Homo sapiens: one gene and its partners. The protein of the gene in region 7 purifies or fractionates together with the protein of the main gene of each other region. This does not show direct contact. Each region holds a gene or a part of one and is shown on either strand. Other genes may lie near its edges. The genes, in order: TXLNG, HECW2, TRMT61B, CCDC102A, SPIN1, STXBP4 and CUEDC1.

Region 1 (3,996 bases), on a different chromosome or scaffold from region 7:
ACCAGGGAGGAGAACAGGGAGAAGAGTGCCACTTCCTTCTTATTCAACTACACCTAACAAATAGGCATCTTTCCCCCTTTTTGTTAAGTGACAGATCTGCCAATCAGTGGAATCCAAATGGGTGGTGAGGGACAACTGGTATAAACACTTTCCCTTGACCTTCATTGCTCTGGCTCATTCAGAAGCCTCTGTAACAGTATTTAATAGACTACTTCCTCATTTAATTCTCAGAACTATCTTATAGGCAGGTATGATAAACAAGCAGCCTCAGTGATAAGGTAATTTAAGTACGATGTCCACGGTCAGGAACCTAGGAAAGGAAAGCAGAGACTGAATCCTTGTCTTTCTCTGTAAAGGGCATACTCTCTAAAGAGCATGCTCTTCCCAGGTTATGTTAAAAATAAACAAGTGCGGCCGGGCACAGTGGCTCATGCCTGTAATCCCAGCACCTTGAGAGGCCAAGGCTGGAGGATCCCTCGAGCCCAGGAGTTTGAGACCAGCCTGGACAACATGGCAAAACTCTGTCTCTAATAAAAAATAATAAAAATGAACAAGTGTAGTGACGGTCACACAACTCTGAATATATACTAAAAAAAAGTGAGGCCGGGCACAGTGGCTCATGCCTGTAATGCCAGCACTTTGGGAGGCTGAGGTGGGTGGATCACCTGAGGTCAGGAGTTCAAGACCATCTTGGCTAACATGATGAAACCCCGTTTCTACTAAAAATACAAAAAATTAGCCGGGCACGGTGGCGCATACCTGTAATCCCAGCTACTCGGGAGACTGAGGCTGGAGAACTGTTTGAACCCGGGAGGCAGAGGTTGCAGTGAGCCGAGATCGCACCACTGCACTCCAGCTTGGGCAACAAGAGTGAAACTCCGACTCAAAAAAAAAAAAAAAAATTGAATTATACACTATAAATGGGCAAACTGTATGGCATGTTACCCAAACAAATTACTAAATAAATGAAGCCAGAGAAATGATGGAGTTCTAAGGAGGGATCATAAATTGGAGGCAGGGTAAGTTCTAGGAGTTGTCCTAACTACTACCTGGGAGCAGGCAGCTAAAGGATCCAGAGTAACTGTCACAGCATGTAAGAGCACAAAGAACACACAGAACCATTAGTAGGTAAATGACAAGAAAAGAGAGGCAGACTAGTGCTAAACTAAGGGATGAGGGAACCTGATCTCCCCCACTGGGGAAGAAACCAAGAATGAGTAAAAGGATCCGGGAAAGGTCTACTTTGGACACAGCTTCTTTAGTCTCATAACCTAGCAGTATAAGTGCTAATATTGTACATTTACTGGTAACATCTATATTAGACTGTGTACATCATTTGCCTTTTAATAAGTGAATGTTAATGACTGCATTAAATTTTGCATTTAACTTCTGTGGCTATTTCTTTTATAAAAATAAATTATTATTTTTATTTTTTTTTGAGACAGTGTCTCGCTCTGTCGCCCAGGCTGGAGTGCAGTGGCGCAATCTCGGCTCGCTGCAAGCTCCGCCTCCCAGGTTCACACCATTCTCCTGCCTCAGCCTCCCGAGTAGCTGGGACTACAGGCGCCCACCACCACGCCTGGCTAATTTTTTGTATTTTTAGTAGAGATGGGGTTTCACCATCTTAGCCAGGATGGTCTCGATCTCCTGACCTCGTGATCCGCCTGCCTCTGCCTCCCAAAGTGCTGGGATTACAGGTGTGAGCCACCGCGCCCAGCTAAATTATTCTTTTATATAAATAAAGGATGCTGGATTCCATGATTTGCAAAATCACTTCTAGTTCTAAAACTGTAACTCAATGAATATCTGCAATCTGAAAGATACTTGTATTAGTGTAAGTACCTATTTCAGCAGCAAAAGAGCAGGACATTCAAAGATTTTAATGCCCAAAGCCACTGAAATATACTTGGACCTGATCTATTTACAGGACAGGGGCTGGGTCACACAACTAGCATCTTTAAGCCACAGACTCTTAGATGTAAAATGGTCCTTTACTTTTATGGGTTACCTAAGTGAACATCCCTGTCCCAATTTTATGAAGTCATCCTTCCCTAGATCCATATGGACCAATCCTGATACACCTCTGAAACATCAAGCCTTCTTTTTATTTGTCTTACTTCCCCAGACCACTTCAACTCTTTGCTAACACCAGGTTATATGAACTTTATTTACAAGAAGTTAAAGAGAGTCTCTCTAAACTCTCTACCTTTCAATTTATTCAAATTACACTTGGAGGTACTGTTGCAGGAAGTTGTAGCATGGCATACCTCCTAAATCATAAATCTCAAGGTTAACCTAGGGCCTAGGTGAATGAAGCAAAAGATATTAAGAGGCTCAAAACTCCTCTGGTCCCCAAATTACAATCAATTTTCGATATCCCCTAATCATCCAACTCCATCCCTCATAATTTGTCTTCGTTTAGCAAAAACTATTACTATTACTATTTTATCTACCAGCATGTTTTGCTCACTTTCAACTAGGGGCACTTATGTGACCTTTACTATCTGAGGAAATGTTAACATGAGAGATACGAAATATGGACAATGGCTTTGGAGCCCAAAGAGCCGAAACTCTGAATATACCACTTAGCATCTCCTGTGTGGCCATAGGGAGGCCAACCTGTCAGTTTCCTTATCTGTAAACTGGGATGTACAGTACTTACCTTCTTAGCGCCATAAGTAGATATAATAGGTATAAATTGCTGATAGATATAAACTGCTGACACATAGCAGAACTGTTATAATATTTGAATGAAGACATTTTACAGGCTGCGTGCAGTGGCTCACGCCTGTAATCCCAGCAGTTTGGGAGGCCAAGGCAGGAGAATCATGCTTGAGCCTAAGAGTTTAAGACCAGCCTGCGCAACATAGGAAGACCCTGTCTCTCAAAAAAAAGAAAAAAAACAGCCAGACATGGTGGCACACACACCTGTAGTCCTAGCTACTAGGAAGGCTGAGGCAGGAAGATCACTTGAGACCAGGAGTTCAAGGCTGCAATAAGCGTTAACTACACTCCAGCCTGGGCAACACAGGGAGATCCTGTCTCAAAAAAAAAGAAAAAAAAAAAAGATATTTTACAAAATGCATTCATTCTCACTTTTAATATGGCCCATTTTGCAATCCAAAAGACCCATAAAGAAATGAGTTTCTAAGCTACTGGCACATCTTTCTTGCCAAACCATTCTACTACCTTGAGAGTAGGGAAAGAAGAAACATGAAAAAAAAAAAAAGTAGCCAGTAAATATTACTCAGGACAGACTATAAGGTGGGAAGTAGGAGATAACAGAGGTCATTCTAGGGACGTTTTGGAAATGCAACACAGAATGCAAATCAACACCCTAAGCAATAAATGCTAATACAATTATTTTGATAGCATAGGAGGAAAACACCAGTTATTTTATGTATCTTTTCCTTCAAGTAATAAAATGTAAGTATTTATAAGTGCCAACAGAATTTCAACTAGGAGGTAGATTCAAACATAAAAATGTACTCCCAGGGTCTTAATGGATCTTAAAGGTCACCTTACCTATTTCTACCCTCTTCTAGAAATGTCCCATCTCAATGTTGATGAATATGATATTAAATTTGTATATTATTGTATACTTTTTTTTTTTTTTGACACGGAGTCTCCCTCTATGTCACCCAGGCTGGAGTATAATGGCACGATCTTGGCTCACAGCAACATCCGCCTCCCAAGTTCAAGTGATTCTCCTGCCTCAGCCTCCCGAGTAGCTGGGATTACAGGCATGCATCACCATGCCCAGCTAATTTTTGTATTTTTAGTAGAGATGGGGTTTTACCATGTTGACCAGGCTGGTCTTGAACTCCTGACCTCAGGTGATCCACCTGCCTCGGCCTTCCAAAGTGCTGGGATTACAGGCATGAGCCACTGTGCCTGGCCTATACTTTTTATTTTTATTATTATTATTATTTTTTAGAGACAGGATCTCACTCTCTTGCCCAGGCTAGAGCAGTGGCCCAATCGTGGCTCACTGCA
Region 2 (3,996 bases), on a different chromosome or scaffold from region 7:
CGACATGAGGTAAGTTACTGTTCCATGGCCCAGTTGTACAGTGGTAGTCATTGATTTGCTATAGCTGTTTTGAAATTTCACTCCCCTTAACCCAATTTTAAGGGTCATTTTTTTTCAGTTCAATCTGAACATTCATTAGGCATCAAGCATGTACCAGACATCTGAATAGCTACTTGATGAATAGTCACTACCCCCAGGAGCTAATGGGCTAGTTGGGGAGCCAAGTACACAAACAGATAAGTTAATATAAAGCGATAAGTGATAACATAAGATTGGTAACACTTAAAATTCATGTACTTTTAAAATCTATGTCACACTTCAATTTAAGAAAAGATAAGGTAGGGATAGGGATTTAGGTGTCAGAGCACACATGAGGGGCCTTTTCTTTGACTGAGAGATTCAGGAAAAGCTTTTTGCAGAAGATGATGCCTACATTAAATCTTTCAGGATGTTTAAAAGCAAGAGACGTAAAAAGGAATACATGAAGGAGGAGAAGGGGAAAGAGAAAGGAGAAAGAGAGAATAACATGAACAAAATACAAGGCATGGATGTGTACAGGAAACTCCAAGCATATCAGCAGTTTGAGAGAGTTAACCTTAAGACAGAATTTCTAGAGAATGAGGCCAGCAAGGGAGCAGGCCTTAATATCATCCTAAGGAGATTGGTGATTCAGAACTACCAAAAGATTTTAAGACAGGGCATGACATGATCAGACGTGAAATGTGAATTATAAACAGCTCCTCTGGAAGTCCCAGTGTGAAGGATTATTTAAAATGGGGTGGGATGAGGGGTGGTTATCATTAGAGGGTAGAGACCAATGAATAGACCACTACAGTAATATGGCCAAAATAAGATAAGGGCTCTAACTAGGGCTGTGCTATTAAGGTTGGAGAGAAGAAGATGAATTTGAAAATCATTTAGGAGGCAAACATGTAGCAATCAGGAAATGGTTTTATTGGGGGAGTATAAAGAAGGATATCTAAAACAGGGGTGACAAACGAACTCATGTCAAAACTAACTGTAATTAATTGCTGGGCTTGAGCACTATAAGTTAAAAAGATTTCTGAGGCCACAGTGAGTTCAGTGGGAAAAAGTACCACAGGTGATTTGTGAACTCTACCCTGGGAATGATGGGGTAGAGTAGAGATGGGGAAGAGTAGAACATGTACCGTGTGTATTTGTCATCGCTGTTTAAGGGTGACTCCCAATTTCTGACCAGAGTGGCCTGAGAATAGTGGCACTATTAACTGTAACTGGGCATATGGGAGAAGGTATACTTTTACGTAGGGAAACTTGATGAGCTTAGTCTTAACCATGTTGATTCTGAGATCCTTGTAAGACATCCGAGTGGAGATATTTGGTGGACTGTTGACCATGTGAGGCTACACCTTAAGGGAGATCATGACTGAGAGTACAGATTTGGGAGTCAGAGGAGATAAGACAGGAGAAGAAATTCCCCCATGAGAGCACACTGAGTGAGAAAACGAGGGGCCTGGTGATAGAAGCTTCAGGTACACCAAGACTTAAGGGCAAATCAGAAGAGGGACTCATGAAGGGACAGAAAAGTTAAAAAAAAGAACCCGCAAAGTACAGTGTCATAGATGCCAGCTCTGAAGGAAAGACACAGGAATAAATGGTGGCGGGTGTGGGTGGTGCACAGTGTCAGAAGCAGCAGCATGATCCAATAAGATACGGACTAATCAGTATTCTTTAAATGCCTCCACAGGTTTTCTGGTGGGAAAGAAACCAGGCTGAAGTGTGCTTAGGGTGTGAATTTGAGGTAAGTGTAGACAGTCAGTATAGACTAGTTTTTCAGGAAGCTTAAATGAGAAGATAAGAGATAAGGCAATGAAATGGGAAGATGCAAAGTGGGCCACAAAGAACCAAAGAGACAGAAAACGGCACCTGTTCCCCAGTGCTACAGCTGTGAAGACACTGAAAGAGAAGAAGGCAAAAGTCTTTCTACTGACCCTCCCAAGGGCCCACAAGAAGCATTTTGTTTGCTTTCATTTGAGGTCTAGGCTTCCATTTTACAGTAAGCAAGTGCGTGGCCTCAGTTAGGGTATGAGCTGGACAGAGCCAAGTGATAATTCAGTGCATTCTCATCGCAAATTTGAGCTACTATCCCACAGACAGTTGTCTTCTGTTCAGCCTTGTAAATGGCTGCTGATTATAGGACAGAAACAATTAGCCCTACATTTTACAATAACTGCAATCTTTCATTAACAATGAAGAAAAAGTTCTGTGAATGCTGAATTTTCATTTTCCATAATAAATTACTAAGGGCATAGAGAAAGTTTAAGAAACATATGGCACTGTCCACCCTTGACAAACAAATAAAAAACAAAACCAAAACAAAGGAAAATGAAGATTTGAACGAGGAGTAAGCATTTGAAAATATGCATCAAGCCAAATATAAAATGTGTCTCATAAAGGAGAGGGGGGCTGTGAGTCACTAAGACTAACCCACAACAATTCTATTAATAATCTGCATTAATACCACAGGAATCCCAGGGCTGTGTTTGAAGTACAATTGTTTTAAAGAAACACATGCTGCAACAAATGAGAATAAATTTTGGGGGGTAGAGCAAAACTAAAAATCTGGGGGCTAAATAGGTCAGAGGCAGGAAAAACACAGTAATCATATTTGAAATTGCATTAGTTTCAGAAATCTAAACCACTATTAGGTTTAATAACAACAAATTTGAGATTGTGAACAGATAAACAATGACTTTGACAGAAGAATTTTTTCAAAAAAGTAAATACTGCATTTTACATGCTAATTATGCAGGCAATAAAAATATTCTTACATTCTGAGAAGAGCCTTATAAAAGGGCCGTGTGAAGAAGGCATCCAACAAATACTGGTGTATTAGTGCAAGACCAAGGATCCTACCACTGAATCGGAACCTGTGAAGGAAACACATGAGATGGCTTACATGTCATGGAGCAGTTTCTAGGTGGTTCCATATGCTTTCTAGAATGCCTTCCAGCGCTAACCATCTAAATTTTTCCAATATTAATTGCCTACTAGGTAGTGAGAATTTGTAGGCACCATGGGCTGTGTCTTCATCAGGCCAGTGGTACAGTTTGTATACTTGTCCCTGCCCAAATGTCATGTTGAATTGCAATCCCCATTGCTGGGGGTGGGGCCTGGTGGGAGGTGTTTGGATCATGGAGGCTGATCCCTTATGGCTTGGTGCTATCTTCATGATAGTGAGTTCTCATGAAATCTGGTCATATAAAAGTGTGGCACCTCCCTCCAACACACACACACACTCTCTCTCTCTCTCCCTCCTGCTTTTGTCATATGATGTGCCTGCTTCCCCTTTGCCTTCCACCATGATTGAAAAAGCTCCCTGAGACCATCCCCAAAGCCCAGTGATTTGGGTGCTATGCTTCCTGTACAGCCTGCAGAATCATGAGCCAATTAAACTTCTTTTCTTTATAAATTACCAGTCTCAGGTATTTCTTTATAGCAATGCAAGAATGGGCTAAAACAGCCAGTAATTCATACCTACTTGTTGAAGAATCAGTTTCACTCATATTTAGAGACCCTGCTCCACCTTCACTGCATATCAACAATGTAGCACCCCACATTCATGAATCCCCTGTGAGCATTTCAGTGACATTTCCCCAAACCACTTCTAAGAGATGTTGACAGATGAGACCTCTGGAGGTGGGGAAAATGCTATTCCCTCCTAGTGTGTATGCATGAATATTAGCAGAATTTCTCAATACAAACTCAGTAGCAATTCCTTTCTGAGGAAAGGCCCAGTCTCAGATCAAGAAAGTTCCTATCCCTATTCTCTCTCAAGACCCATTCCTGATATTTTCACCATTCAAGAATTGTGCACATGGACATTTGGGGGAGTTTCCTTCTGGGACATTCTGTTCTCTAAAATTTCAAGGCTCAATTCTATTCTGAATCACTTTGGAAATTTTATTAAATATATTTGTTATGACTGGATTTGCTGCCTGAGATGTAAACTTACTT
Region 3 (4,485 bases), on a different chromosome or scaffold from region 7:
AACATATATAAAGTTTTCAAAACAATGTATGGTATGTGGTAAGTGCTAAATAACTGGTGCCTATGAATAATAAGTCCCATTTGTAATTAATTCATGTTTCCAAAATGTATTCCCCAAACATTTTTTTTTTAAGATGGAGTCTCGCCCTGTCACCCAGGCTGGAGTGCAGTGGCACAGTCGCAGCTCACTGCAACCTTCGCCTTCCAGGTTTAAGCGATTCTCCTGCCTCAGCTTCCCAAGTAGCTGGGATTACAGGTGCCCGCCACCACAACCAGCTAATTTTTGTATTTTTAGTAGAGACAAGGTTTTGCCATGTTGGCCAGACTAGTCTCGAACTCCTGACCTCAGGTGATCTGCCTGCCTTGGCCTCCCAAAGGCGTGAGCCACTGTGCCCAGCCCCCAAACATTTAATTTGTGTAGTAACACTGAATAATTCTAATGTTCTTTCAAGCTGGTTAAAAAGATTCTGAGGGGATAAAAGAGATTCAAGAGCCTGTTACATCTTTTGTTACAATTTTTAAGGTGATTATATCATTCTTAAGTTTCCCCCCATTATTTACTGTAGCCCAGATTTCCTTATTATTTTTTAAGACATATACAAGCCATTATAAGATGTATTTAAAATGGACAGATACATAAAATTTATCTTAAAATGCATATTTTATTTCAGTAGTCAATGACCATCAATCAAATAAAGGAAAGAAAACTAATTTCTTGAAGAAAGACAAATCTATGGAGTGGTTTACAGGAAGTGAAGAATGAGATGGCCCAACTAAACCAATTTGGAATCATTAACTACAAAATGTCAAACTAACTGCAAGACAAGTGTCAAAATGGGATGTTTAAGCAGTTTTGCTATGTTATACATCTTTTAGTTGTTATTTTCAAAATTATATGTATAAGTTATATAAGTCATAGTAATAGCTAAAAATGCCAATCTATGGAAGCAGTGATTTTCAATATAAAGTTCTATTTTGATATTTTTCCATCTTCAAGTCAGTTACTGTCATCTGGAGTACTCAGTTAAGTTGTGGTTTGACCTTCCTCAACTTGACAAGAAAAGCTAATTTAAGAGAAGAAAAACATAAAGTCATTATATTAATTAAAAGAAAAAACACCATTTAATATGTTCTGAAAACATTACTCACCTGTATGACCAGGTTGCCAGTGTACTGGTCTAGCAACATAGGGAAATGATCCATATGGAAAATCAGAATGCGATTCTTCTGTTGTAAAAAAATATATGTACTATAAGCTACATAAAATATTTTCTATTTTTTTCACAAAACTGTTAAAATATGAGTTACTCTCTTTATTGTAAGTTTTTTCTTTATTTATTTCCTTGCATATGTTTTAGAGCTACTCTGCCAGTTATTATACAGAAACTATTTGTCAATGATTATGTAATAAACATATGATTTTATAACCAAATGGATAAGCCTATATCATAAATCAACTGATACTTGAAAACTTGTTCATGGCCTAAATAATGTGTATATATGACAAAGACCTAAACTCAGTTCTTTCAAGAATTCCAGCAGCATCTTAGAAGTTGCTTTTTGGAATATTAGCTATTTGCCTATCAGGTCCCATTAATAATCAGTGATCTAAATATAAAACATCCTTAATACATTTAAATTATTTCACAAACCAAGCTCCTTGTGACAAGTAAAATATGAATATTATAAAAAGCTCAATTCTTCAAAGGTATCAGAGTTTTAAGTAAAAGGCAGGAAAAGTCATTATTCTGTGCCTTATACATCTTAACAGAATAAATATCACACTTTTCTATAGAAAATTGCTGAGGAATATTTTTATAATCTATTGGTCAGTATACTCAGGAACTCATTCTCCATTCATTACTGCATGCATAAAGTAAAACTGAAGCTCACCATGGTCATCCTCTTGAAACAGCTCACCTTTAACTCCAATTTTCTCTTGAGAATCTAGTTGTACATCTGTGTTGATTTTAGATTCTACTTTTTGAGCTAAAATTCCATTTTTCTGTTTTGCAAGGCAAACCAACCAATCTCTGACAATGACCTCGCTTATCTTTTCACATGAAAGAGCAAGTTCACAGGTGCGAATTCCATCTAAAAGTTCAATAACCTGTGTGATGCTTTCAGAAAAGTGAAAAATTTACATTTCTACTAAAATAATAACATTATATTTATTTAAGTTCCCTATACCTCTTGCCCACATTTAAATACCATAGTTAAATTAAGGCAGGAGAGGGTTTAAATATGCAAGTTAGGAGGCATAAAAAGTACCTTCACAAAATTCTAAGTAAACAAACACAGAGACCATAATTTAACATTACTGTTCACATTATACTTTTAAAACATTTCTTCCAGATTGTCAGAAGAAAATATGCATCTTATATTACTATTTATGTAAAAAATGATTTAAACAGTAATATAGGGTTGGGCGTGGGTCACGCCTGTAATCCCAGCACTTTGGGAGGCTGAGGGGGGCAGATCACTTGAGGTCAGGAGTTCCAGACCAGCCTGGCCAACATGGTGAAACCCTGTCTCCACTAAAATACAAAAATTAGCCGGGTGTGGTGGCGCATACCTGTAATCCCAGCTACTCAGGAGGCTGAGGCAGGAGAATCACTTGAACCCAGGAGGCGGAGGTTGCAGCGAGCTGAGATCATGACACTGCACCCCAGCCTGGGTGACAAAGCGAGACTCTGTCTCAAAAAAAAAAAAAAAAAAAAAAACGAAAAAAGTTTAAAAAAAAAAAACACTAAATAAATATACAGTAATATAAATGAACTTGGGACTTGTCATTTTAAAACAGTTGTATAAGATGCCATATACACTTTATTCAGTTACAAAATGAATATTTTGGCTGGGCGTGGTGGCTCAAGCCTGTAAGCCCAGCACCTTGGGAGACCAGGTGAGCAGATCACCTGAAGTCAGGAGTTCAAGACCAGCCTGGCCAACATGGTGAAACCCCTTCTCTACCAAAAATAGAAAAAATCAGCCGGGCGTGGTGGCGGGCGCCTGTAACCCCAGCTACTTGGGAGGCTGAGGCAGGATAATTGCTTGAACAGGGGAGGTGGAGGTTGCAGTGAGCTGAGATCATACCACTACACTCCAACCTGGGTGACAGAGTTTTTTTCTGTCTCAAAAAAAAAAAAAAAAAAAAAAAAATTTAGTTTGATACTTAAGCAAAAGTGCACTTAAAAGTTACATTACAAAGAAAAACAGTTATATTACTCACTTTACTACATATACAGCACATACACCACCATGCTTAAGATGTGGGTAAAAAACAGGCAAAGTAACATGAGGATTTAACATATCCAAAGCTACCTGTGTGGGGGAAAAAGAGAACTGGATCAGTCTGATTCCGTTTAAATAAAGCATAAGTTTTCTTATTGTGGTGAAATGACACACTTTTGGACAGCAATCAAAGTATTTCATTTTTTAGAAGGTAGTATTATTAACTATCATTTTACCACTCCCAAAAGGGTATGTTAATTATTATACAGTTGGGCAATGTGGCTTCTGCCTGTAATCCCAACACTTTGGGAGGCTGAGGCAAGAGGATCCATTTGAGGCCGAGTTTGAGAACAGCCCAGGCAACATAGCGAGACTCTGACTCTATTGAAAAAAAAAAAAAGTAGCTGGATGCAGTGGCACAAGCCCGTAGTACCAGCTATTCAGGAAGCTGAGGTGGGAGGGTCACTGGAGCCTAGGAGTTCGAGGCTGTAGTGACCTATGACTGTGCCATCATACTCCACCCTGGGCAAGAGTGAGATCCTGTCTCAGGGAAGAAAAAACAATTTGTCATAGTACTTGATGATACTGAAAAATCATAATGATATGTCTTGTACTTTGCATATTAATATGGAAATATTGATTTGGCTATGTATGTATATATGAATATAACCAAAGAAAGATTCCTGTATGCCTGTATTATCAATATTGCCAAGTGTAAAACACGCCATTACAACATGAAAAATTTAAACATTTGAGACAATGTGAATTTCCTTTTTTTTTTTTTGAGACAGGGTCTCGCTCTGTTGACCAGGCTGGAGTACAGTGGCACAATGTCACCTCGCTGCAACTTCCACCTCCTGAACTCAAGCAACCCTCCCACCTCAGCCTCTCGAGTAGCTGAGACTACAGGCAGGCGCCACCATTCTCAGCTAACTTTTTGTATATTATGTAGATACAGGTTTTGCCATGTTGCCCAGGCTGGTCTTGAACTCCTGGATTCAAGCGATCTGCCCGCCTCGGCCTCCCAAAATGCTGGGATTACAGATGTGAACCGCTGCACCTGGCTGACAATGTGAATTTCTATTGCCAAAACTTATAAATTTAAATGCTTTATTTCAGCTTTGGCAACAGAAATTCACATTGTTGGCCAGAGGCAGTGGCTCACGCCTATAATCCCAGCACTTTGGGAGCCCAGGCGGGTGGATCACCTGAGGTCAGGAGTTTGAGAGTAGCCTGGCCAACATGGCAAAACCCT
Region 4 (3,996 bases), on a different chromosome or scaffold from region 7:
CTTGCACATCTACCCATCCTCCCAGGCCCTGCACTACTGATGCAGCCATCCACCTCCTATCCTTCTGTCCCCATCAGTCTGTCCATCGGACCATTCGTCCAGGGAGATATTCATCTGCCCATGGAGACAGTCACCCACCACTCCCCATCCATTAATCTAATCAGCAGCCCATCTAGCATGCCTAGCCATGCCTTCCTGCTCTCCCGGACACACCTATCTTCCCGTCAACCTGGCCTTCTTTCTCCCTCTGTATTCGTTCTTCCACCCACTGACCCAGTCAGCTGTCCATCCATCTGTCCACTCTCTACCCATCCAGCCATCATCTGTTCATACATCCATTGGATCCACCCATCCATCTGCCCGCCCTGCCTCTCTCTCCCATTCATCCATCCATTCATTCCTTTACCCATTGGTTCATCCATGCACACATCCATCTTGTCTTCTGTTCATTTTTCTTCCCATCTTCCCACCCACATGTCCATCCTGCCATCCATTCATCACGCACCTACCCACTCTATCCTGGGCGACTCCTGAGAGACAGGCTTGTGCCAGGCACCAGGGGCTGAGAATGGAGAAGCCAGGATGGCCCTGCGGCCCCCACTCCTCCCTGGCCAAGGTCTGTTGCTGCCCCTGCCCCTCTGTGGTCCTCACCTCGTCCTCAGCCTGGGCCAGCTCCTTCTTGAGCTCCTCCACCCGCAGCCGCAGCTTCTTCACCTCAGCCTCGTGCTGCTCCACCCGCCGGTTGGCATGTGCCAGCTCTGCCACCTTCTCCTGGAACTGCTTCTTCAGCTTGCCATGCACATGCTTCAGGTCTGCCAGCTCCTACAGGGCACAGGGATGGGGTGGGAGGGAGGAGGGAATCAGTATCAGCTTGGGCGCCATGCCAGGGAGTCCCACGAGGTCAGGCAGTTCTAGGGATGCTGGGTGTCTCTCCTTCCCAGAATCTCTCCATCTGTTGTCTGAAGTATCAGCAGTAGAGGTTTGGCTGAGCAGCCAGAGGCTGGAGGTGCCTTCCAGGGAGGTGAGAAGGCTGGGTGGGTGGAACCTGTGGCTCCGGTTTGGATGTGTAACTTTCAGATGCTACTGGATCTACCCTGGAGCTGTTGGAGCAGGGTCGGGGTTTCCGGGGAAGGATGAGGTCTGGAGTCTTCAGGGGCGTATGGCATTGAAAGAGCTGGGTTGGGAATGAGCTAGGCTGGGGAATGGGTGGGTGTCTCAGAGCCCAGAGTGGCTGGGAAGAGGAAGGGCAGCCAGCAAAAGAGATGCCCACCCTGGAGCTCTGTGAGTTCTCTAAGCCTCAGTTTCCATTTCTGTAAAATGGGAATAGGCATTGCCTAAAGGTCTCTTGAGTCCATCCTTTTTGTTCCATCTCTACTGACTGCAACCTGGTCCAGGTCTCCTCCCTCTCTTGTTGTCCAGGGAATGTCAACAGCTTCCCCCCAGCCTGTCTTCCCATCCTCTGCCCACACAGCCTGCTCACACTCCCCTCCTGCTTTAAACTCTCTCGAAGAGTCCCACCACTCGTGCCTCACTTACCACATCCCCCCGCTCACTCCCCTCCAGCACACTGGACTTGTTCCTCCAAAGCTCTGTGTCTCTTTCACCACGGACATTTATTCATGTTATTCCTAACTTCTCTCCATCCCCTCCCCTAAATCCGCACACTACCAGTTAACGGCTGCTTTTCCTGGAGAACTCAGTTTATTTATTTATTATTATTTTTTTGAGACGGAGTTTCTCTGTCACCCAGGCTGGGGTGCAGTGGTGCAATCTCAGCTCAGTGCAACCTCTGCCTCCCGGTTTCAAGTGATTCTCCTGCCTCAGCCACCCGAGTAGCTGGGATTACAGGTGCCCACAATGCTCGGCTAATTTTTGTATTTTTAGTAGATATGGGGTTTCGCCATGTTAGCCAGGCTGGTCCCAAAATGCTGACCTCAGGTGATCTGCCCACCCCAGCCTCCCAAAGTGCTGAGATTACAGATGTGTGCCACTGCGCCTGGCTGAGAACTCAGTTTAAAATGTCACTGCCTCCGGGAGGTATTTCCAGGACCGTGGGCCTAAGCCAGGTCTCCTAGTATCCCCTCTTCTTGCTGGTGACCATGAAGCTGTGTGATTGGCATGAATCTGTGTGACAGAGAGAGCCATGTGTACATCCCCCAAGTAAGTCTTCAGCTCCATGAGGGGAAGAGGGGAGGCCACATCTGTCTGTTCAGTGCTGTGTCTCTGGCACCTAGAGTGGAGCTTGGCACATAGTAAGTGCTCAATGAATGCGGCTACTATAATTACCAACTGGTCTAGCACACAAGGTGCTGAATACATGCAGCTACCATAATTATCACCAGGCCTGACACATAGTAGGGAAGCTGCGCTCTGGCTGGATGGGGAGGTGGCAGCCCCAGCACTGGCCACTCCACTCCTTGCCCCACCTTGTTCTTCTCGAAGAGCGCGGCCTGGCTGGCCCTCAGGTCGCAGTCCAGTGCGCTGGCTGTTTGCCGCCGCCGCCGGGCCAGCGCCTCCTCCAGGTCTCCGACCTGTGCCCGCAGCTTCTTGTTCTCCCGCTCAAGGCCCAGTTTCTCTGTCTCCAGCCGCTCCCGGCGGCCCCACTCCGCAGCGTTTTCGGCCTGCAGCCGCTCCATCTGCAGCAGGGCAGGGCAGAGTGAGGACTCCCAGCGGAGGGGGCATGCAGGGCCTGAGCTGGATGCCCCCGCCACCTCCTGGAGCCATTTTTGGCTCCAGGAAGCAGATCCAGCTGCATTGGCTGTAATTAAGCTGGGCTCATTTCATGGTGTACAGGATGTGAGGGCGCTTCTGGCCTCTGTGTGGGAGAGAGGCCTGCCTCTTGCAGATCAGGACACCATTGGATGTGGCTGGCCCCGCTCAGAGCACAGTCCTGGCCCCTGCCCTGTTCCCAGTGACCTGCTGATGGAGCAGGGCCCCAGGACCCCTAAACCCAGGTCCTCCTGGGTCCCATCCATGGCCTCACCTCGCCCCTCAGCTCGGCCATTTTCCGGTCCATGCTGGAGCGTGCACCGAGCTCATCTTCCAGGTCCTCAGACATGCGGCCCAGCTCGTCCTGGTGCGCCTCCTTCAGGATGCTGAGCTGCAGGGATAAGGCCCCACCTGGTCATGAGAACCACCAGGATATAGCCTGGAACCACCTCCGGGGGTGGGCGCCAGTGCAGGAGTGCTCAGCGTGGAGCCAAGGCAGCGCCCAAATGGGGCAGGCACCAGGTATTCCAAACAGACCTCGAATCTGACCACTTCTGCTCCTCCCAATGTCTCTCCTCCTCATTACTGTCTAGCCTCCCAGTGTCTACTCCTGGCCCTTCTCTGTCAACCCGTTTTCTACAACAGCAGCCCAGAGGGAGCTTTTAACAAAGATGAATGCAATCATACCACCCTCCTCCCACAAAGCCTCTGATGGCTCCCAGGTGCCTTAGGGTAAAGTCCAACTCCTCTCTACGCTCTCACAAAGCCCTGCACGATTGGACACCTACCCGCCGCTCCCCCTTAGTTCACTGTACTCCAGGCACCAGGGACTCCTTTCTGTTCCTCAGACACACCAAGTTCCTGCCCACCACAGGGCCTTTGCACATGCGTGGATCTTTCTGAGACACTTCTTAGGACTGATTTTTCTTATTCTCAGGCCTTGACCTAAAGGCCCCCTCCTTAGGAATGCCTCTTCTGCCCACCTGGCCTGGAGGAGGGGCCTCCTCATCCCACTCCCCACTGGAAAGCTAGCCTGGGAGGACGGGGAGCTTGTGCGTCTGTCCACCTTTGTGTCGTTGTATGGCCTGGGCACAGGGCCGCCCTCAGTGTACAGTGACTAATTCCAACACTGCTCTGCACACAGGTGCATCGGCATTGCTTGGCGTGCATTTAAGACAATAACATTTCTTGCGGTATACAGCAAACCCCAACAAACTGCTGCTCCCTGTAACACACGGATGAGTTTTCAACACATAATGTTGAGGGAGAGACACCAGATACAAAAGA
Region 5 (4,247 bases), on a different chromosome or scaffold from region 7:
ATTGCTTTCCAGTTTAATGAAAGCTTAAATGTCCCTGCGAACCCACAATCTCTGCCAGCAGAACTGGTTTTGTTCTGAATAGTACAGATTGATGTGAACACAAAGCATTTTGTGTAAGGAGAACCCCTTTCTTTTAAAAGAAGTCTGTCTATTTCGAGGGGAGTTACAGGCAAGTTTGGTAAAAGTTAAGCTAGTATCATAGTCATTTAAAATTGTAATAGATCTTAACCATTTTCCCCCTCACCCTAACTCTCTTATTCTGCCGCCACAATGCAAGCATAGTTTGATGTTTTCGTTATTGCCTTTTTTGAGATGTATGTATCTGTATCTACCTATATCTATATGTGTGTATACATATATAATATATACACACAGATACAAGTGTACACACACACACCACACACCACACACACCCCACTGGCAGTCTTTGTGGATTAGGATGGGGGTGACATAATTTTCTTGAGTTTAACAGGAGTGCTTTACCCAAGTCAGTCATGGATATGATATCACTGCTCTTTATTTAAAAGTAAACTTTGGGCACAGGAACCATATGGGAACATTCAGCTTGTTTAAAAAAAAAAAATCAGAAGTTCAGAGCACCTTTTCAATCTGGAGCCCTTAAACCATAAGTCCAAATATGAATTATTTGTGAACAGTTAATGACCCATATTAGAATTTTACAATCTGGTGAACAATCTGGGTAAAAGGCTACCTTTAATTCTAAGCTTCATTTTTTTTTGGGGGGGGGTTACATTTTAATCATAAATTCTTTTTTGCAAAGCCCAGGTTCTTGTTCCACACAGTGTAATGTAGGTGTATTTTGGACAGCACATATGGTCCATTGTGTACAAGTCAGTAATCTGGATTTCAGTACATGGATTTAAAAGGCAACAATCCATCACTGGTTTGTGTGTTTTTGGTTAAGTTTCTGGAAGAATACAATGCTTTTATATTGGAAGTATAAGTTTTGAGTGGCATTGTTGCCTTCTAACAAGCTCTCTGGGACTTTTAAAGTTTTATTACTATTATTGCTAATGTATGATTATGGTCAGAGACTTTCAACCCACCCCTTCCTGCCTACCCCTGGCTTTTCCTCACAAAGAATGTCTAGACAAACAGCAGCTTAGTCTCCTGACACCTCTTGTGGGGTGCATGTTCCTGCTCCAGGTATGCTGTTCATGTGGATTCATTCCATTCAGTGGCCCCTTGGGGTTTGCATGCCAGTGAAGCGTTACCATAGAAGAGCCAGCCGTTTGTGTTCGCTTGGTAGGTGTAAGTAATAGCAGCCCTTAGCCACGGAGTCTTTATGTGGTTTATTCCTGCAAGGTTGTTTTAAACTGAAATAGAACTGCTAGTGTGATTGGTTGATCAGCAAAACAGCTGCTCTCATTTTGTTTTGGAGGAACCCTGGTGGTTTGACAGCCAGGAGAAAGGCCATATGTGAAACCAGTCTCTTGTGGAGATTGGAAATCCTCCCTGATATTTGGGCAGAGCCTAAACGTGCATGCTTGTCACTCAAACACCAGAAGTTTGAATCAGAGGTCTGAGTGACCTCTTTTGTGGCTGTTCTTGATGGTTTCCAGGCCTCGTTATGCATGGTTTGCTTGATGCCCATTTTTTGTGCCTTGTGCTGTTGGATGGTAACGACCACTCACCATGTAAACACAGTACCTCAGTTTTCTGTCCACAGCTGCAGTCGCTCTGTCCCTCGTGCTTCACTGTGGGCAGCCAGGGACAAGCTTCTGAAAGCAGTGTGATACCCAAGTCATAGGTGCTTCTCGTATGTGAACAGGTGTCATTCTACAGATCTGTTATGTGTTTTCCTGTTGACTCTTAAGAGTCCCTGCATGTAAATCTCAAAGCTGAGCCTGGCTCCCAGAGTCCAGACTGACATTACAGCGCAAGAGTTTGCAAGTGTGTCCAGCATGCACCAACTGTGCAGAACTTGGCTCGGTAACTTTGCGTGGAAAAATAAAGTACATTTTGAAGTATCTTGAGGGTTGGGTCAATTGAGACATTTCTAGCATTACTTAATGACTTGCATTGTGGTTTTTCTGCAAGCAACTTTAATGACTTTTTTTATACCACATGGTCTCCCAGTTTCTAGATGAATGCAACATGATGATGGTGATGATGACGATGAGTTTAATCATTGTTCATTTATTGCCTTTAGGGCTGAGGGAAAGGGAAGGTTTGTTTTTTTTTCTCCCCATTTTCCCCCATTCTGTCTTTCTTTTGGTGACTTACACCACATGTAATGACGCTATGACTAATTCTGCTCCCAAGCCCTTGTATCTTGGGCTTCATTTTAGGCTCATGTGTCAGATCTGCATGCATTGCTTGCATTTTTCTGGTATCTGAATGTTGGTTCCTTGTTCCAGGAATTCAACATTAATTTCCAAAAGTATCATGGGACTTGTGACAATACAAGACATGAATCTATGTATAAAATTTATCGGCCTTTCTCATTTACCTGCTCTAGTATTATTGTATTGTGTGTGCGTGCGTGTGTGATGTCAGGCTGCCACGTAAAACTTCAGAGAAAAATCTTAAAAGCAGACCATCCTTTTTTGCATGCTCTATTCTAAGTAGAATGTTCAATGTAACTGACTAAAATTGCATGTTAAAGATATTTAGGTTTTTTTGTTTTCTTTATTTTTATTTGTTTTCAGTTTCCTGTATATTTGCTTACTGTGCCGTTTTAGTGGTTTTAGGATAAAAATGCACTGGTGAAGCAAATGTAGTGCCAACAGAAGGTGATTTTCCAGTTGTAAATGTCATGCAGCATTTGAAGGGACTGTGTTTTCTTAAAAAAAAATCACAGTTACTTCTAAACCAGATTTCATTTCTTTTATTGTTTTATGTGCCAAACCACGAAGTGCATTGGGCTTCAATCTCTGAACACTGTAGACCCATTAGAAGACTGTTCCGATTGTTACAAATTGTAGTGCCTGAAAACACTCTTAAGCTGATTGTCTTAACAAAATGAAAGTTCTCCAAAGACAAAACAGAACAATTATTATAACAAAATAATTATGGTTGAAATGTCTGTGGTTCCTTGGAAATGCTGCGCTCTTTGTGTTTTTCCATCATTAGTGCAGTTGGAATGAATGTGTATAGGTCAGAGGTCTTCGTGTTCACATTTTAAAATTAGGTAAATGACCTCATCTTTCAAGCTTGAATTCATTTTTAATTTTAATTTTATTTTATACAATGTGTAGACAGTTCCCTGTTCTCTGCATTTAGAAGTATACACAATATAAATCTGTTAATTCTGTAAGTAATTTTTATAATTATGATGTAACTCTATCTTATCCTTAAAACATTTAAAATAAACCCTTTATGTGCAACTCCTGACTGTAAAGTTTGTGCTGATGAGCAACATGTGATGTGTTAAACTTGATTCTGAAAAGTTTTTTGGGCCAAGTAACCTTTTCACCACATGTAAATGTCAGATATGCATAGAAAGAAATAGAATTTTTATTTGATAACATTCAATAATACCTGAAAGAAGAGGAGGCAGTCATCAATATCACACATATATTAAATATTGAAGTTTGCAATTTGACATTGAGAAAGTTTAACTTACAAGATCTTAAACTTAAAAAAATTCTTTTAAATATAATTAAATAATGGGTATTTTATACTTTTCACAAGTATTCTTGCTTTGAATATTTCTTATAATGCTTTTACTCATAAATAATAAACAATGGGATTCTATAGTGAAAAATCACTATTTCTCAATGCTAGGATACAAAAAAATGAAAGTAATATAGGCTGGTGCAAAGTAATAGCAGTTTTGCCACTGCTTTTATGGCAAAAAATGCAATTACTTTTTCACCAACCTAATATTAACACCTATGTATGTTTTATCTTTCTTGATTATTTTAATCAGTGAGGTAAAAAGTGGAATTTATGGCATGCTTTAATAAGATTTTTTTTTTTAATGTTTCCCAGTTCATTTTGGCCTAAGGATCTCATGCTTAAGTCTGGGATATTTACCTGCCTTTGGGAGAATGGTTGATACTTGGTGAGGGATGAATGCAAACTTGGGCTTTGGGACGCTGGGCTTCTAGGTTTGTGTCAGTGCAGTGCCTGTGCTCCAAGTCCATGGAGGTTACTGAGGTGGACTGAAGGCAGGGTCTACTCCGGCTTAGGTGGAAGAAGGCTGCAGTTCAAGGAGGAAATGAGCCATTGGGAAGCACAGGTGCCTCTCTTGAGTCTGGGTTTTCTGACCTTCCTTGCTG
Region 6 (3,996 bases), 3.0 Mb from region 7:
AGTTATACCCGCTTTTAATTATATGCAAATTAAGGGACAGTTTATGCAGAAATTTCTAGGATGAGTGTGGTAATTTCCAGTTCATAGGGTCATTGCCATGGAAAGGGGTGGTAAGATCTGTATGTTGCCATGGCGATAGTAAACTGATGTGGCACACTGGTGGCCATGTCTTCTGGAAAGGCTTCTATCCAGGAACTTTTTAGCTGATCCTCAGGTTCGTTCCAAGTCCTGATTCCTACCCCACTTAGATAAGCCCTGTGTTTGTTTAATGCTCTACTGTCAGCATCTTGAAATTATTTTTTGTTTTTGAGACGGAGTCTCACTCTGTCACCCAGGCTGGAGTGCAATGGCATGATCTCGGCTCACTGCAACCTCTGCCTCCCAGGTTCAAGTGATCTTCCTGCCTCAGCCTCCTGAGTAGTAGCTGGGATTACAGGCGCATACCACCATGCCCTGCTAAAAATTCTTAATAATTATTTAACATGGGGCCTTGCATTTTCATTTTGTATTGGGCCCTGCAATTTATGCAGCCAGTCCTGGTCAAGATGTAAATAGATATAAATATAGATAGAGATGCAGATACAGATATAGGCACAATATTATATCTCAAATGCACTGACAGACAGTCTCACATGATTCAGGCCAAAGCACAGTCTAATTACGTGATTTAATTATGTGATTAAAGGCAAAGGCAGAAAACTAGGGAAAGTACAAAAGTGGAGAGCCTTTAGAGCCTTTACTTTTAACCTTTAGAAGGTTAAAGGTAAGAGATAAAGGGAAAGGCAAATTCAGGTCTCCTGAGAATAGTCAGGTTAAGTGAAATATGATCAAAACTCCAAACTTGCTACCATAGCCCATAAGACCCTAGGAAATCCAGACCCTGCCTACTTCTCTAACCTTATCTCCTACCACTCTCTCCCTGTTCACCACACTCCAGTTGCACTTCTTTCTTTTCTTTAAACACCTCAAGTTTGTTTTACTGCCCTCAGACCTTTTCTCTGCCTGGAATGCTTTGTCCCTCAGCTTTTTTCACAGATGACTTATTATTTGGATCTTAGCTGGGACACCCTCCCCAGTCTAAATTAGCCCTTCTCTCCTTAGTCACATTTGCTATCACCTTTCAATATCTGAAATCTAGTTCATTTAATTGTATCTTTTTTTTATTGTTTTTCTCCCACCACTAGAATGTAAATACCAAAAGAGCAATGATCTTGACTTGTTCACCATAATATCACATGCCCTTAGTGTTGTACCTGCACATAATTGTACTGAGTTAAAAATTTGGTGGATGAATGCATGAATGAAAGCAAACAGAAGGCAGTCCGGTAGCCTAAGGAAACTTCTGAGAGCAGTGAGCTGTTGTGCTGATGAAGACTCCTTTCAAGAAGACTAAGACTTTCTTTGAAGTAGTTTTCTGATGTTTCCCACTGAGTTGGGCTGTGTGTTACAGGCAGATGCTTATGCATCCTGAAATAGGACCAATTGTCCCATAGAACTGATATTAATCATTTCTTTGAATAAGCACAGAAATTGATTCTCCCATTGTTAAAACTTGAGAAAGTTAAATTTGTCTTATCTGAGTTACTTTCTCAGGAAACCAACCATCAGGCCTCCCAGATACTATCAAGAAACTGAAACTTACCAGATCATTGCATCTGGACAATATGATACCAGACCCTTCAGCCATCATGACTGCCTTACCCAGGGGTACCCAGTCCTTAGGCTGCAGACTAGTAGCCGTCCATGGCCTGTTAGGAACCCGGCCAGACGGCAGGAGGTGAGTGGAGGGCAAGTGGGCATTACCACCTGAGCTCTACCTCCTGTCAGATCAGTGGCAGCATTAGATTCTCCCAGGAGTGAGAACCCTATTATGAATTAGGCATATGAGTGGTCTAGGTTGCATGCTCCTTATGAGAATCTAATGCCTGATGATCTAAGGTGGAACAGTTTCATCTGGAAACCATCCCCCACACCCCCATGCGTGGAAAAATTGTCTTCCACAAAACTGGTCCCTGGTACCAAAAAGGTTGGGGACTGCTGGCCTAACCAATCACTTGCTACCTGTTGACCAACTCCTCTTCCTTACCCCTCCCTAATTCCTGTTTTCCCACACATACTTACATTTTTTCCCTGCCATATAAGCCCCTAATTTTAGCTCGTCAGGGAGAGGGATACAAATTTCCCATCTCCTTGGCTGCGGCACCCAGTTAAAGCCTTCTTCCCTGGCAATACTCCTTTCAGTGATTGGTTTTCTGTGTAGTGAGCAACAGGACCTAAACCGAACCCCTGGCATTTTGGTAACACCCCCAAGACAAATGAGTAGCATTTCTGAACTCGTTAGATTCTTGAAAGAAAAAAACATGCACTAGTAAACAGAATATTGCCTTTGGGTACAGAATAAAAGATAATAAAATACAGTTGGCCATCAGTATCCGCAGGTTCCACATACACAGGTTCAACCAATCACAGATTGAAAATGAACATTAGGCCTACAATGGCTGTGTCTTTACTGAACATGTACACACTTTTTCTTGTCATCATGCCCTAAATAATATAGCATAACATATTTACATTGTGTTTTGTATTATAAGTAATCTAGGGATGATTTAAAATATAGGAGAGGATATGCATAGGTTATGTGCAAATACTACACCATTTTATATCAGGGACTTGAATATCTTCTAATTTTGGTATCTGCAGTGTCCTGGAACAAGTTCCCTGAAAATACTGAGGGATGACTATAACTCTTTGATCTTTTATATATTGGTTTCCTGAAACTTTCATGTCATTTAAAAATGATCAGTTAAGTTTAGCCCAGGGAAAATAGTCATTCCTGATTTTGCCAATTTTCTTAAACAACCTTAGGATTATATAAATAGCTGATGTTATCTTGAGGAATCTCTGCTGTGATAAGGTATAAAACAAGTTACCAGTTTCTAAATGCTGTCATTTTTGTGTCTCCTCAAGTATAATACATCCAACTTTATAGGAAGAAATATTTACATTTTTAATATTAGCTTTAGTGAATAAATAAATAGTAGGCATTTCTAACTTGTCAGTCCACAGAAACCAGACAGATTATTTACTGAGCAGCCAACATCATTGTGCCCTCTTCCTCTTTTGAAATGACCTTAATGTGAAATGTCACTACACTAGTACACTTTTCCCTCCACTCTAATCCCTCCCAAATGACCAACTGCAGCCTACCCCATCCCATTCATGGGTCATACTGATCTTAGAGGTGGACGTATATTTTAAAAAGAAAATCGTTCCCTCAAAAAACATTGGGAGACTTGTAGTTTAATAAGCCTGCCATAAAATTTTTGATTTGTAGAGCCAAGAAAGAACCTTTAAAGATCATTTTATGAATGATTTTGACATCGTACATATGAAGACTAGGGAGCAGAGTAAGTGGCTGCTCAAAGTCATATGTCTAGTGGGCATCTACCCTCTGGACTGGTACTCTTCCCAATGCAATAAAAAAAACATGAAATATATGTACTATGTAATATGTACTATGAGCTTCTTTGCTATGAGTCATCTTTCTTTTTAAATTATAGCAGAAAATAAGTGTATTTATTTCTACTGCCTGTCAATTTGCTTACAAAGGAGTTGTCATAAGAAGTTATTTAAAGGATGTAGCTGAATTTCTTTGTGAAACACCAGATCTATGTTATTTTCTCTTTTAAATTGCAACATTTGTTGATACCTTAGCAAATGAAGATGAAAGAAGAAAATAACATAAAGGGTAAAATGACATTAAAGGAGACATAATTAGAAAGAGCTGATATTTAGATGCCAAGAAGGTACACTGGAACATGGTAACTTTTTTGATATTTTTCCTTCTTTATCCAAATAATATATCAAAGTATATATCCTTGTTGTAAGCCATTCAAAAAATAAAGAATAACTTAAAGAAGGAAATAAAAATAACAGTAAATAAAAATAGTAGTTCCAAGTGTCAGTTATTGTTTACATTTTATATTTTTAATAAAT
Region 7 (3,996 bases):
CGGGCATTCTTCAATCACTCCAACAGTCAAAGGAGGGGTTAGGCCAAATTTAAGTAATCTTCTAGCTCAAAAATTCCAGCTCCTTTTATCCTCCGATCACCGAGCTGACATGGACCTCTAGGGGCCTCTACTTCATCTTCCTGTCTCCAGATGAAACCTCTTAAACCACAAAGACAAATGAAACTTGTTCCCATTTCTGAAGACCTTCAGGGGAGGCCATTCCCCTCTGTGCCTATGAGTCACTTTTCTTACATCTCACATCCTATCTGGAATGTCTTCCTCATACCTTACTTGAATCCTCCCTCTGTAGTTTAAATTCATTTGCCTCTGGTTCTAAGTGCAGAGAGACAAGAGTGAATCACTGTGTTCTGAGCAATGACTCTTAAGGGACTTTTATGTCTTCTTCACCATGTTCACTGCAGGCATTACAAGAGGTGGCAGTGTTTCTCAGCTGTTAAAAACCACAAAGGCATCAGGAAAGCTGACCACACTGCCCAGTTCCTGCCTCACCCTGGCAAGGGTGCTACAGAATCCAGAAAACCTGACCCTTCTCTGAAACCCACACCGCTACTTAGCTCTACTCAGAGTTCACCAAGGGGGAGAACAATGTGCTCCCATGCCAGATCAAAAGCCCAGGAGGCAGCAGCCACTTTATCTTGTCCTCACTCAGCTCAAGCGGCCCCTCCTCCAGGAAGCCTTCCCTGCCCCAACTCCTCTTCTGGCTGGCAAAGTGCCCCCTTCCTCAGTGCTTTGTCTTATCGCAGCACTTGCCACAGAAACTGAAATTCCAGGCTAACATGTTTGTCTCCCTTACTAGACAGGAGGCATCTTGAAGGCAGGGGCCATGGCTTGATGACCTTTGTGCTCCAGGATGGGCCCCAGCAGAGTATCTGGCACTTGGCCAGTGGTTCTCAGCAGACTCTGTTAAGCTGAACCCTCCAGGCATGTTCCAACGATGCCTGGACATTGCACTGGCAGCCCTTCAAGCAGGACACAAATCCCACAACCCCCCCAGCTCCACCCTCCCCCACCACGACCACCCCCGAGCTCAGTAGGGGTGTCTCTGACATACTTTTTTTTTTTTTTTTTTTTTTTTTTGAGGTAGGGTCTTGCTCTGACACCCAGGCTGGAGTGCAGTGGTGCAATTTCAGCTCACTGCAACCTCGGCCTCCCAGGCTCAAGCGATCCTCCCACCTACGCCTCCTGAGTAGCTGGGACTACAGATACATGCCACCACGCCTAGCTAATTTTTGTAGAGATGAGGTTTCACCATGTTGCCCAGGCTGGTTTAGAACTCTTGAGCTCAAGTGATCTGCCAACCTCAGTCTCTCAAAGTGCTAGGATTACAGGCATGAACTACCACACCCAGCCCTGACAGTTTCTCTAAGGGTGTGGGCCTGCAGCCAGACTTCCTGAATTCAAATCCTGGCTCTGCCACTTTCTAGCCATGTGATCTTGGGCAAGTTATTTAAACTCTTGATGTCTCTTATGTCTCTATTTCTTCACCTGAAAAATTGGTATAATATCTCATAGGTCCTGTGAAGATTCAACGAGCTAATCCATGTGAAGTACTTGGAAAGGGTCCGACCCCTCTGTGAGTGCTGCAATGATTATTTCCCAAGCCTATCCCTTCACAGAAACCCTTGGCCCCCACAGCTTCCACTCTTTTCGTTTTTGAGACAGAGTCTCACTCTGTCACCCAGGCTGGAGTGTAGTGGCGCGATCTCGGCTCACTGCAACTTCTGCCTCCTGGGTTCAAGCGATTCTCCTGCCTCAGCTTCCCAAGTAGCTGGGACTACAGGCGCCTGCCGCCAAACCTGGATAATTTTTTTGTACTTTAGTAGAGACGGGGGTTTCACCATGTTGCCCAGGTTGGTCTTCAACTCCTGAGCTCAGGCAATCTGCCTGCCTCAGCCTGCTAAAGTGCTAGGATTACAGATATGAGCCACCGTGTCCAGCCTCTTTTTTATTTTTTTATTTATTTATTTTTTTTTTTTTGAGACAGAGTCTCGCTCTGTCGCCCAGGCTGGAGTGTAACGCTGTGATCTCTGCTCACTGAAACCTCCGCCTCCTGGGTTCAAGCTATTCTCCTGCCTCAGCCTCCTGGGTAGCTGAGATTACAGGCGCCCACCACCATGCCCGGCTAATTTTTGTATTTTTAGTAGAGACAGGGTTTCACCACGTTGGCCAGGCTGGTCTCGAACTCCTGACCTCAGGTGATCCGCCCGCCTCGGCCTCCCAAAGTGCTGGGATTACAGGCGTGAGCCACTGCACCCTGTGAGCTTGCACTCTTGACTGCCTATTGGGCCTGCCCCGATCTCCTGACTAGGTTCCCTTCCTCCAGGGAACTCTGCCCTGTTCCTCTGGACCAATGTTAGTATTAACTTTATGCCATTCAACCCTTCTCACTGGTTATGCCTCCTCACCCCTCCCCCAGCTTACAGGGCAAATTCTCCAAAGAAAAGGAAAAAGAGTTGGTTCCACAGCAGGGCTACAGATGCTGAGTCATTCTGCCCCCAAATATGCTTAGCTGTCACCCATGACATTTCAGTCTCCCCACCCCCGCCTCCACTGTGCGGTCCTCTCTGCTCATCATTCAAGAGCCTCACCCCACCCCCTCCCACTCTTCCAAAATCCACCCTCAGCCTCTACAGTTTTTACCAAAGATTTTCCTTAATAATGAGCCTCAGAATTTGTGTACCGCTGTGCAGAAATGGCAATAATAATAATAGCTTCGATGTAATGAACACTTCCTCTTTGTCTGGCATACACATGAGATCTCTTTTAACTCTTTCTAAATATAGGAAACTCTGGCACTTACAAAGTCTTAGAGTAAGATGGAGAGCTGGGATTCTACCTGGAGATGCCTAACTTCAGATCTTACACTCTAAACAACTAAGCTATGATGAAAATGTGCACAAAATAACTCAGTTGCTTCCTGGGGGTGGAAGTTAAGCCAGTGGAGTTGGAACTTTTTTTTTTTTGAGACAGAGTCTCACTCTGTTGTCCAGGCTAGAGTCCAGTGGTGCAATCTCAGCTCACTGCAACCTCCGCCTCCCGAGTTCAAATGATTCTCCTGCCTCAGCCTCCCAAGTAGCTGGGGTTACAAGTACGCACCACCATGCCCGGCTAATTTTTTGTATTTTTAGTAGAGATAGGTTTCACCATGTTGGCCAGGCTGGTCTCGAACTCCTGACCTCAGGTGATCCACCCGCCTCAGCCTCCCAAAGTGCTGGGATTACAGGCAGGAGCCACCACGCCCAGCCTAAACATTTTTATCTTACCAAGAATTCCTCAAAGACCCTTGGTGCTGCCACAATGCAAATGAAATGGTCACATTTATAAGAAGGGAGTTTATATTTACAAGGACTGTTATCACATTTATCATTTATGACCTGCTTTAAAGATAAGACATTTAGCTGCATCATCAAGAGTCTGTGATAATGCGCTGACACATCAGAGGTTCTGGGAGCCTGGAAGCCAAGGGGATCAGAGAAACACTGAGTGAGCCAACACAGCTAGCATCCTGAACTCACCAACCCATGGTAGCCAGGGCCACAGCATGACTGAGAAGTCATGGCCACTGGGGAAGGTGAATCCTCAGTCACTGCAACAAGGACTTTGCATGCCACCAAGACACTTTCAATTCCCAAGTCAAGGACCACTGGACCACAGCGCTTTAGGGTCTCCAATGCCCTTCATTTTATTTTATTTTATTTTATTTTATTTATTTATTTATGTTTTTTTTTTGGAGACAAAGTTTTGCTCTTGTCATCCAGGTTGGAGTGCAATGGCACAACTTCGGCTCACTGCAACCTCCACCTCCCAGGTTCAAGCAATTCTCCTGCCTCAGTCTCCTGAGTAGCTGGGATTACAGGCACACGCCACCACACCCAGCAAATTTTTGTATTTTTAGTAGAGACGGGGTTTCACCATGTTGGCCAGACTAGTCTTAAACTCCTGACCTCAGGTGATCCACCCCCCTCGGCCTCCCAG

Evidence for each region.
Region 1: the proteins of CUEDC1 (region 7) and TXLNG purify together in Homo sapiens (affinity purification with mass spectrometry; one large-scale study listed by BioGRID and IntAct). This does not show direct contact.
Region 2: the proteins of CUEDC1 (region 7) and HECW2 purify together in Homo sapiens (co-immunoprecipitation; 2 studies listed by BioGRID and IntAct, with this or other methods). This does not show direct contact.
Region 3: the proteins of CUEDC1 (region 7) and TRMT61B purify together in Homo sapiens (co-immunoprecipitation; one large-scale study listed by IntAct). This does not show direct contact.
Region 4: the proteins of CUEDC1 (region 7) and CCDC102A purify together in Homo sapiens (co-immunoprecipitation; one large-scale study listed by IntAct). This does not show direct contact.
Region 5: the proteins of CUEDC1 (region 7) and SPIN1 purify together in Homo sapiens (affinity purification with mass spectrometry; one large-scale study listed by BioGRID and IntAct). This does not show direct contact.
Region 6: the proteins of CUEDC1 (region 7) and STXBP4 purify together in Homo sapiens (co-immunoprecipitation; 2 studies listed by BioGRID and IntAct, with this or other methods). This does not show direct contact.

What each region holds. Positions count from the first base shown.
Region 1 is NC_000023.11:16,792,719-16,796,714, reverse strand, and holds part of TXLNG (gamma-taxilin), read right to left. Parts: intron 1-3,996. UniProt on the Homo sapiens protein: May be involved in intracellular vesicle traffic. Inhibits ATF4-mediated transcription, possibly by dimerizing with ATF4 to form inactive dimers that cannot bind DNA. May be involved in regulating bone mass density through an ATF4-dependent pathway.
Region 2 is NC_000002.12:196,222,962-196,226,957, forward strand, and holds part of HECW2 (E3 ubiquitin-protein ligase HECW2), read right to left. Parts: intron 2,910-3,996; coding exon 2,811-2,909; intron 1-2,810. UniProt on the Homo sapiens protein: E3 ubiquitin-protein ligase that mediates ubiquitination of TP73. Acts to stabilize TP73 and enhance activation of transcription by TP73. Involved in the regulation of mitotic metaphase/anaphase transition.
Region 3 is NC_000002.12:28,849,180-28,853,664, forward strand, and holds the end of TRMT61B (tRNA (adenine(58)-N(1))-methyltransferase, mitochondrial precursor), read right to left. Parts: intron 3,321-4,485; coding exon 3,229-3,320; intron 2,120-3,228; coding exon 1,893-2,119; intron 1,432-1,892; exon of another isoform or gene 1,227-1,431; coding exon 1,149-1,226; exon of another isoform or gene 1,064-1,148; coding exon 1,020-1,063; 3' UTR 763-1,019; coding exon of another isoform or gene 671-762; 3' UTR 642-670; downstream 1-641. Other genes in the region: SPDYA (speedy protein A), read left to right, coding at 671-762.
Region 4 is NC_000016.10:57,515,642-57,519,637, forward strand, and holds part of CCDC102A (coiled-coil domain-containing protein 102A), read right to left. Parts: intron 3,101-3,996; coding exon 2,984-3,100; intron 2,637-2,983; coding exon 2,427-2,636; intron 823-2,426; coding exon 652-822; intron 1-651.
Region 5 is NC_000009.12:88,475,345-88,479,591, forward strand, and holds the end of SPIN1 (spindlin-1), read left to right. Parts: 3' UTR 1-3,350; downstream 3,351-4,247. UniProt on the Homo sapiens protein: Chromatin reader that specifically recognizes and binds histone H3 both trimethylated at 'Lys-4' and 'Lys-9' (H3K4me3K9me3) and is involved in piRNA-mediated retrotransposon silencing during spermatogenesis.
Region 6 is NC_000017.11:54,974,849-54,978,844, forward strand, and holds part of STXBP4 (syntaxin-binding protein 4), read left to right. Parts: intron 1-3,996. UniProt on the Homo sapiens protein: Plays a role in the translocation of transport vesicles from the cytoplasm to the plasma membrane. Inhibits the translocation of SLC2A4 from intracellular vesicles to the plasma membrane by STX4A binding and preventing the interaction between STX4A and VAMP2.
Region 7 is NC_000017.11:57,948,493-57,952,488, forward strand, and holds part of CUEDC1 (CUE domain-containing protein 1), read right to left. Parts: intron 1-3,996.